Linked DNA regions of Homo sapiens: region 2 is linked to region 1. A link means that fine-mapping ties the variant in region 1 to the expression of a gene that starts in the linked region. Tissue or cell type: whole blood. Region 1 holds a variant in brackets; the other region holds the start of a gene. All regions are shown on one strand. Distances are from middle to middle.

Region 1 (5,148 bases):
TGCAGAAATACTAGCCACGTTCACATAAACTTGATGGAATTATTTTTTGAAAGAACAGCCCCAACTATAAAAGAGAAAACCTCCTATATTTTGTTTATATTTTACTTTTTTAGAAGAAAAGGGTAAGTGGGATGATAGGATTTGGGCTTAAATGAAGACTTAATGATTCAAAAATCTGATTTTTTAAATATTATTTAAATCATTTGAACCATTTCCTTTCTGACATTTGTTTGTAATATGTAAGTGATTGTGGCCTATTATTAAAGTATTTTGACACTCGAAACAGAATTCTTTATATTCCTTTATAAATTCATAAACACTTCTAGAATTACAACTTTTTATAAATGGGAAGTGACATGTTCATTTTCTATTGTACTTTAACCAATAGTAGTTTAATACTCAACTTGGCAAAGATTCATTTTAGCAAAGCTCCTTGTAATTCAGTGATAAGCATGATTTTTTTCAAAGTAAAGCTTTTTTTGTTGATATGTCTTTGATTCTAATTGTATGATTCATATAATTCATTAGAGAATGGTTGTTTGTATTAATTTCAGTATTTTGCAAGCTAAATTTTGTTTTAAATCATATAGTCAATCACTAAAATATTATAGTTCTAAATCTTTAATACAATCCCTAATGCTAAATGTAAATTATTACTTACAACAGAAGAACTTGGATTTTAAATTAACACATGGAAATAAAAATGATTTATTTTGTTCTTGTTGTTTTTTTTAATAGTTATTTGGGATTTGATCATGCTGCAACATTATTTCACATCCGAGACAGCCCTGCTGATCCTGTGGAAAGGCCAATTTACCTTACTAACACTTTCAGTTTTGCGATCCTCATTCACGATGTGTTGCTACCAGAAGAAGCCAAAACAATGTTTAAAGTATGTCCAGGAGCCCTCATACTTTTAATTTTCCTGGTCTACCAACTAGGTGATGCTGACACTTTGTTTTTTTTCTCTTCTGTCATTTCTCAGGTTCACAACTTCAGCAAACCAGTCTTAATTCTTCCTAATGAATCAGGATACATTTTTACCCTGCTTTTTATGCCTTCCACATCATCCATGCACATTGATAACAACATTTTACTTATTACCAATGCTTCTAAATTTCATTTACCCGTGCGGGTATACACAGGCTTTTTAGATGTAAGTATATTATCCATCTTTAACATTTAAACTCCCTGCCCACCTTTAATGTTTTCAGATCTTATTAGGCAGTCGTGTTACATACGGTTTGCCATTATTTGTGCTCTGCAAATTGATCTAATTCTCCTAGTCAGTTTTTACCTTTCCAGGTAACTAGTTTTTACCTTTTCTGGCAGCTCTCTCTTGTGATACAGTTGACTTCTCTAGTTACAGTCTCTACTTAGATCTTTTCCACATTCTGCTTTCTCTTGGATATGCTTTTAAACTATTGTAATAATGGGGAATATAGAAAAGAACTAAATAGAAAAATGATAGGTAGAAAAAGAATAATACAAGGAAGGTGAAGAGGGATATACGTAGGGAAGAGATGATCAAAACCAAGAAATATCGGGACAAAGAAGAGAATCAGATAGTAAAGAAGAAAATAAGGTAGTAAAGACGCAAAGTTGGAAGATTATATATGACACAGAAGGAAACAATGAAGGTACTCCTGGTACAGAAAATAAGCAGGGGGAAAAATTCCAAACAAAGCTATCTTGAGAGTGATCAATGAAAGAAGCTTAGATAAGAGAGAAAACTGTTAGGAAAGATAAAAAGAAAGCTAGGACATCTAGAAATGTAGCCCTTTAAATAGTTGGCATCGATTAGAATTTTAGAGCTGGAGGGACCTTCAGTAATGTCTCGCTCCTGCTTCAGTTATTTTGTTTCAGTGATCATTGGTGATGCTTGCTGAGACCACATGCTTTTTGCCCGATCCCCTAGGGTTCCACTAAACCTCTCTTAGTAGTTTAGCTTCCTGCCTCTTTCATGTGCCCTCAGAGGAAGAATAGCAACTCAGCAGAAGCCATGGCTGTTTTCATTTCTGATTACTCAAAAGACTTTCGTCATACAAAGCCCTCAACTATGTCGTATAAATGTGTGGTTTTATGCATATATACAAAAGCATAGGAAAGCATAGAACTGTAATTTTTTTTTTTTTTAGATGGAGTCTCGCTGTGTTTCCCAAGCTGGAGTGCAGTGGTGCAATCTTGGCTTGCGGGTTCAAGCGATTCTCCTGCCTGAGCTCAGCCTTCCGAGTAGCTGGGATTATAGGTGCACACCACCATGCCCAGCTAATTTTGGGGGGAACTTTAATACATCTTTAATATAGTTACTTTCTCTTCATAATATTGTTAGATCAATGTGACTTTTTTTTAATCTGGTTCTTTTATATCTTTCCAGTACTTTGTATTGCCCCCCAAAATAGAGGAACGTTTCATAGATTTTGGAGTACTGAGTGCTACAGAAGCAAGTAATATTTTATTTGCAATTATAAACAGCAATCCAATTGAGGTAAAAACCTGTTTTTATTCTAAATCACATTTAAGGATTTTATGCTTGTGTTGTGATAATCATTTTCATATCTTTTTTTAAAGTTGGCTATAAAAAGTTGGCATATCATAGGAGACGGTTTATCAATAGAACTTGTAGCTGTGGAAAGAGGCAATAGAACTACAATAATTTCAAGCCTGCCAGAGTTTGAAAAATCCTCTTTATCAGATCAATCATCGGTAAGTAAACTTTCTATTGTCT[C/T]CTTAAAGTAAGATGGATGTCTAAACTGCAAGTGGAAGATCATTGCTATGCTACATGTATCACTATTATTTTTATGCAGTTCATAATAGTGTTGGTTACTTGCTATTAAAAGGACCTTATAGGTAATGTAATTCAACCCCCTATTTTTATGATGAGGGCACTGAAACCCAAAGGGGTTTAATTCTGCCTTGTCATAAAAAGTTCTATAACACACAAATTTTTAATTATCTTTTTGTAACACAAGTGTCATTACAGGAGAGATTCCCATGGGTACTAAACTAACCTTGTGTTCATTGAGTTTACTGGGAAAAAGAGATGGCCCTGAACATTGGTAGAAAATATTTTCAATTATGCAATAATACGTCTGTCCAGATACTGCCTCAGTATCAGTGAGGCAAACATTGTTTGATCACTGTGAGTCTGCCCACATATTTTTACCTGTCTAATAAACATGTTACAGTTGGTTGTCAGAGAGCGCTAAACAAGAGAAAACAAATTTATTAGTTTCAGCACTCACCAGTACTGAAAGGGGAACTTGGAGTTTATACCTACTGGGAAAAGAATTAGAATCACAATCTGTGAGAAGGAGCATCAGATAATCTCATCTGCAGGTTAGAATAGAATTTCTTGGGGCAGTTTTACAAAAGGAAAAGCAAGTGTCCTTATACACAGAGAGTGTTGACAAACACGTTTCCGTGGAATGCCATAGGTCTGGTGTTTTGTTATATCTGACCTCAGCTGCCCTGAAGATATGAATATTAACATTACAGAGTGACATCCACAGCTTGAAGCAGAGCCAGCTGTGTATACAATTGTGGCTCCAGTGTGCCTGAAAGGTTGGTGGAAGGCTGTGTCCCTCTGCTCCAGCCCCTTTGGCCATACAGGTCCATGGGTAAAGAGTGAGGAGCTTTATTAGCAAGAGGACCACACCCCTCCCTCTTTCAGGAACCAGCTTTTTCAGTGGCCCATGGAACAAGTGTAGTAGAGAAATATCAAGGGATGGACACTATTTTGAGATATTTGTACACAGTGATATGGTAATTCAGTGTCATACTGGTATATGTTAGGATTTGTTAGTCATTTTATCGCTACACCCTTCATGTCCATTTTAATAGGAAACTTCAACTAACAAGGCTAATGAATGATACCATTTCTACTATCTACAGGTAACATTAGCTTCAGGCTATTTTGCAGTCTTCAGAGTCAAACTTACTGCAAAAAAATTAGAGGGGATTCATGATGGAGCCATCCAGATCACAACAGACTATGAGGTAAGGACTTTATGGGGATTCATGGCAGTGGGGTTTTTCTGAATAAGTCAGTCCTTTCTTGTCTTTATGAAACCAAAGAATTAAGTTTACTCAGAGTTACAGTTTACCAGTTTCATACCTTAAAAACTGAGCTTTCGAGAATAGTTTATAGAATATTGATGTTCATAGGCTCATAGTTTTTTGATAAAACCCAACCCTCCTAACCTAAAAAGCAACTTCAGAAGAATGCCTTTAGCACGTTTAGAATTGCTTTGTTAGAAACCTGCTTAAACAGATGGTTATATCATTGCACAGACCCCAGCTGAGTGTCCTGAGTTAGATACCTCTGATTGTTCCTACAATCATAAATAGCAGTCAGGGTCTAACATTTCTGAAAAGGAAGATAAAATCAGGAGATCATGTCCTAATCTGAGTGCTCACATTTATATTTTCATGAGTCATTCAAAGTCAAGGGACTAAAGGTTACTAAGCTTTTAATTAAAATATTCTGTGTGGAGCTTATTTTGCATTCAGTAAGATTTTGAATGGATGTATTTCTGCCAGACCTAAATGTTTTTAATTGTATATCTAAAAGCTCTTAGGAAAGTCAAGCACTGTTAAATTCAACAACTTACCACCTTTGCCCTCATAGATGTTTTCAGTGGACACAACTCCCACGTGGAAAAAAAATGTAATTATAAAATAAACAGAATTGGCCATTTAATAATAAATGATTTGTTGAGAGTATGTCAGGTGAGGAATTCATGGTTATCACTCATGACAGAAATAAGTACATTTCAGAATTCAGATAAATTTTTGTTAATATGGGTGAAAATAAGAATTAAGAAAAATACCCTAGAGAAGTAGCTTTGAGAGTTACTAACAGTATGGGATGGGATTCTAACTCTAGAATGTTCAGTGCATTTTTAAAAATTAGGTTGATGTCTATTTCTGTATCAAAAAAAAAGCTATATAACTCTAGATATGCTGGATTTTACATACATTGTTTTAGGAGTACAGTTTGACTTTCTTTTTTAAAATAATCTATTTTTATAGATTATTTGTATTTTGAAATACAAAAATATTTGTATTTTTAAAAAATCTGTCTTCATTGCTTCCCCGTTGTTTAGTCTTTTTTACGTGTTTTCAATGAATCACTGAGAAATCTGT
Region 2 (5,148 bases), 170 kb after region 1:
ACGGGTTGTCGATCTATTCTTATTATTAATCTAAGCACTATACACTGGTTATACACTTTCAGTAAGTGGATGGCAAGCTAGCATTAACAGACAGCTTTTCCCAAAATAAGCATATTCCATGCCTACCAAAGAATACGGGTAAGAAATAAGACCAGCCATCTATGGGAGAAGGAGCCAATGCAATGGCTAGTCTTTACTGGAAAGAAGAAACTTTACAGCACATTTTGAGTAATTTAGTGCAGGTGCTCAGTGTGCCAGCTGCTGGGGCACCAGCTTGTAATGGGCTCCACAGCGGGGGCATCGCTGGGCCTCGCCTTTGTGCAGCCAAAACCAGACGACGCTGGTATTGTCCTCTTCACCTAAAAGGGAAAAAAGGTGGTTTATGGTCATCCAACCTAGAAAGGGAGACTTTCAACATGAATTTCTTTTCCTCAGACATCTCTGATACACAAGTAAGACTATGGTTGATATCTTAAGAGATCAGTTCAAGCCCTCCTCCCATTCTTCAGATGAAGAAATTGAGGCTCTGAGTTCACCTATGAGTAAACTGACCTTGTATCAAGGTCACTGTAAATTCTAACAATTCCCTTGCCTATGTAGAACGCAAAGCAGGGTCCGTTCTGGTATGTATCCCTAGTGTCTAAAATGATGCCTGGCATAGAAGCAGTATAACAATAAATATTTGCTGGGTGGGTACTCCTTCATGCCGCACTCCCAGTGAGCCAGTCTTACCGCTGTGCTGCGCTTCTTTCCAGTAAGGATGAACTATCAGGCATAATGAGGCTTGAGAGTGTCAAGACCCTTAGACAAACTTACCAACATGCACTCACACACTGAAGATTTGAGGCAGCTTACACACTATTGTAGGATATATTAAGCAAGTGGATAAAAAATAGAGGTGAGGTACTTACAGATGCAGCCTACTATTCTCTTGTTGGAGATGGAGGGGACTAAATTAGGGTCTTCCCTGGTGCCTGAAGCTCCCTTTGGGGCCAGTACATTGTATGGGTCCTGAAGAAAAAACAAAAAACAAAACAAAACAAAAAAAACAAGAATTGAACCATTAGGCCAAATAAGCCCTACCTTCCAGAAGCTCAGGGGACTGTTCCTACAAGCCAAGTTTCCTGTATCAAATACTCCCAGAGAGGAGACCACTATGAACACATCCAAGGCCATAAGTTACACAGAAGACACAGAAGGGAGTTTCTCCTTACCAGTCCCTTCTTTGCAGCCAGCATGATCTCCCTCTCCAACCCAGTCGCCTGCTCTTCATCAGTGGGAACACCACCTAAAGGAAGATAACGTGAATTATGACGCTGACTGAAATGACTGATAGAAAAACTACAAACAGAAATGATCAAGGAAAATGGTGCCCCGAAACTTCTGTATAAGTTTTAGCGGGCTCACAAGCTCCTAAAGGCTACTCATATCCATGGTCCCCTAAGAACCACCAAGTACCCATCCACACAAGCGGCAGCACTCGGGGGAGCTTTTTTTTTCTTTTTTGAGACGGAGTTTTGCTCTTGTTGCCCAGGCTGGAGTGCAATGGCGCGATGTTGGCTCACGGGAACCTCCGCCTCCCGGGTTTAAGCGATTCTCCTGCCTCAGCCTCCCGAGTAGCTGGGACTACAGGCGCGCGCCACCACGCCCGGCTAATTTTTGTATTTTTAGTAGAAACGGGGTTTTACCATGTTGGCCAGGCTGGTCTTGAGCTCCTGACCTCAGGGGATCTGTCCGCCTCGGCCTCCCAAAGTGCTGGGATTACAGTTGTGAGCCACCGCGCCCGGCCTATGAGCTTTTCTTTCTCCAACCACCGAGGCAAATTTGTCGACATTTGTCTAAAAGCATGTAGAACCCACTCTGCTTGAGGTGGGCGCAGGTTTGAAGGGAGGCCGGACCCCTCCCCATCCCGGTGGCAGCCCCGGTCCCTCCCAAGGTCACCCGGCACCTCCGTTTAGGATACTTTCGCAGCGGAGTGAGTTCGGGGAGCGGCAGGAGCAGCGGTCCAGAATTACAGGGAGATGCCTGCAGAGCCTGAGGCACTGGGGACCGTAAAGCGGCCACTGGGACCTCGAGAAGCTGCACGAGCCGCGCCGCTTTGCCGCCCTGGGACCACCCTGGGAGGGCAACACTCTGGTCCCTGGCACGCCCGGAGACCCGAGTACCTCCAGATGCCATGGAGCGCATCGCGGCCGCGCCACTGGGGCCGCGAGCCCTCAGGGCCTGCGCGGCCAGCGTTCCAGCTCCGCGAAGTAACCTTGAAGCCATTGCGTCCGCGACTAGCAGCAAAACTTCCGGGAACAAGCTGCAGAGACAGGAGGGACTTCCGGGGGCGGGCTTCTTTCTCCTCTCGGTCAGCTTTCGGCTTCCTCCCAGCCCTCGAGCCCGCCCACTCCCAAGACTGTGGCGGGGGCGGAAATTGCGCATGCCCAGCTCTGCCTCTTTCTGCACCGCGTAGTGGCTGAGGCTTGGGGGCGGGGTTGCCTTTAATAACGCTGGGAGGTGGGAAAGTCTTTTTGGTCCCTGGAGTTGAGCGGCTGAACCACATTGGAGTTCCTGTGGGTCTGGCCCCGTAGTCGTGTTCAGCAAACGTGGAGGCTGCTAATGGAAGCTATTAGGTCCCCGTCTGTGAAGAGACTTACTGAACCCCAAATGATTTGAATTTAGAAGTGGGCTCCTAAAGATCACTGCGTTCCTTACTAGGCTGGTTAGTGGCAGGGCTGGTTCTGGCAGTGCGTGGGCCGTCGCGAGCGTGTCGCATTGGACGGGACCTACCTGCAGTCCTGGCCCAGTTTCGTGTTAGAGTTGTACTGTGTGTGGGAGGCGCGGAGGTCCCGGCCTGGGGAGGAGGACAGGGCCGGGGGCGGGACCCCCTACCAGGACCAAGGCCCTGGTGATGTGAAGGAAGTGGCCACTCTTTTTCGAGGCTACTAAGGGAGGAGGAGCAGGAAGGGGAGTTGATAATAGGAAATGGAGTTAGAGCCTGCTGTGACTGGAGTTCCTTGTTTGAAACGGAAAACATATTCCGTCCATGGCTTCCCGTTGCCCATAGGCTAAGATGTGCAAATTTCTTAGGGTGAGCTTTAGTCAGTATAGCCCTGTGACAGGCTAGCTGCATGCGGTATCTGAGTTTCCCTACCAGATAGAAAAATCCCCTTAGAGTGGGAATTAATGCTCATCATTGAATCTTCAATGCCTTGCAGAGGTCTGGTATATAGTAGGATCCAGTAATTTTAGTAAATTTACTACTTGGATAGAGTATACAAAACCAGTTTATAGGGCTTTTCCTGGCCCAGTGAGGTCAATTGGAGGCAACATGGGGAGAGTTGAAGGCTTAGGTGCTCCCGCCTGTCTCATGCAGGCTACGGTATTTTCAAAAGGACGTGGTGGAGCGTTGCTTCACAGGAGCACGTCTGGTCTTCCTGGGTGCCCCCTCCACCAATTAAAAAAAAAAAAAAAAAAACCCTGTATTCTAAGGCCAAAATTTCTTTAAAGGTGGTTTTTGCTTTGAATGGCTTCACTGTTACTCCCTTCTCCCTCACCTCCACTGCAACCCCTCCAAGTTGAATTGGGCGAAAATTCTGAGGATCTGTAGTTAATTTGCAACTGTGGTTAAGGTCTTAGGCAGGAGAAAAAAGCATTGGTCTGGAAAGTAGCCCCACCAGCTAGTTCAGCTACTTTTTATCCTTTGGGCCGCCATTTCTACATCAGTAAAACTGTCGTTCAACTAGGTTAGTATTTCCCAAAGTGTATTGCATGGCATCCAAGTCTCAAGACATGATCTCAAGAAAAAGGACTTGGTCAAGACAGGGAGGGCCTGCATTTGATGACCACCCTTTTGGAGATGGACACTAGCATAATAAAGGCTCTGATTAGGCTTGCAGTAAAGACCTCTTATTTAATTTACCTGCAGTTTAAGCCAGAGTTTCCCTGTCTTAATTGACCACAAAATCCTTTCTGAGGAACACCTACTAACTTGCCCCTCAGCAAACCAGTGAGGTATTCAGCTCTGATATGTTATGATTCCCTGCTGCCTGACCAGAAGTGGTTTACTCCAGGCTATAAAATGGAAATTGAGTTTAGGCTTCTCACTCTCATAGTAGGCTTGCCTAATAATAGGAAATTTTCGCAGGCCCTCATCCAACTCAGGAAAACCTCAGCCTCACTCTGGGATTATTTAGATTGTGTGAGTGAGCTCCAAGGTCAGGTCCAGGCTCCCCAGATGTCCCCGCATCCCTTGCTGCTTCCAGCTCCCACCACTGTCAACTCACACCCAGTCCCTCAGGTCTCCTTTGGAAACAGTTGGCTTGGGGAACAGTCTGCCACCTCTGCTCTATCATTGTCTTTGCCAGCACAATAAACTTATTTTTATAGGATAATTTTCAGTTGTCAAAATAAATGTACATTATAAGTTGAACAGCACAGATATATAAGGAACAAGCTAGCAGTTTGGTGCTTATCCTTTTTTTCCTTTCCCTATGACAGAGTTTCTCAAGCTCAGCACAACTGACATCTTGGGTTGATAATTCTTTGAGGGAGGTTGTGCATTGTAGGATTTAACCCTATGTCATTAGCACCTCCCTGACATGATAACCAAAAATATCTTCAGCCATTGCCACATGCCCCCTGGATTTGCAAAATTCCCATTGAGCATCACTGCATATATGAATATAAAATATAAAAACATAACTACTATACAAAGTTTTAGTTAGTTGCTTCTTTCATTAAAAAATATTTTGTAGGCTGGGTGCGGTGGCTCACACCTGTAATCCTAGCACTTTGGGAGGCTGAGGCAGGCAGATCACCTGAGGTCAGGAGTTCAAAACCAGCTTGGCCGACATGGCGAAACCCTGTCTCTACTAAAAATACAAAAATTAGCTGGGAGCGGTGGTGGGCGCCTGTAATCCCAGCTACGTGGGAGACCGAGGCAGGAGAATCACTTGCACCCGGGAGGCAGAGGTTGCAGTGAGCCAAGATCACATCATTGCACTCCAGCCTGGGCGACAGAGCAAGACTCCGGCTCAAAAAATATATATATTTTGTAGATGTCCCTTCAGATCAATACATCTAGATCTTAACTTACGTGATGGCTGCAGAATATTCCCTACTGTGAATGTACGTTAATGTGCCCAGCCATTCTCCCATGAT

The links. PIP is the estimated chance that this variant, and not a neighbour inherited with it, causes the effect.
Region 2: it holds the start of COX5B, and the variant in region 1 is fine-mapped to the expression of COX5B in whole blood (INTERVAL, PIP above 0.99).

The regions. Positions count from the first base shown.
Region 1 is chr2:97,809,979-97,815,126 of GRCh38, reverse strand. TMEM131 (transmembrane protein 131) reads left to right here. Exons shown (of 41, transcript NM_015348.2): 14 at 739-892; 15 at 986-1,156; 16 at 2,378-2,488; 17 at 2,572-2,706; 18 at 3,895-3,999. Among named protein-coding and RNA genes, the nearest start is that of ZAP70, 99 kb to the right of the region's middle. The variant C/T (reference allele first, on the strand shown) is at 2,729.
Region 2 is chr2:97,643,207-97,648,354 of GRCh38, reverse strand. It overlaps COX5B (cytochrome c oxidase subunit 5B), which reads right to left and starts at 2,293. Exons shown (of 4, transcript NM_001862.3): 1 at 2,166-2,293; 2 at 1,215-1,288; 3 at 912-1,011; 4 at 1-359. The coding sequence starts at 2,268. The coding sequence ends at 247. RefSeq lists enhancers at 2,189-2,368, 2,549-2,598, 2,401-3,335.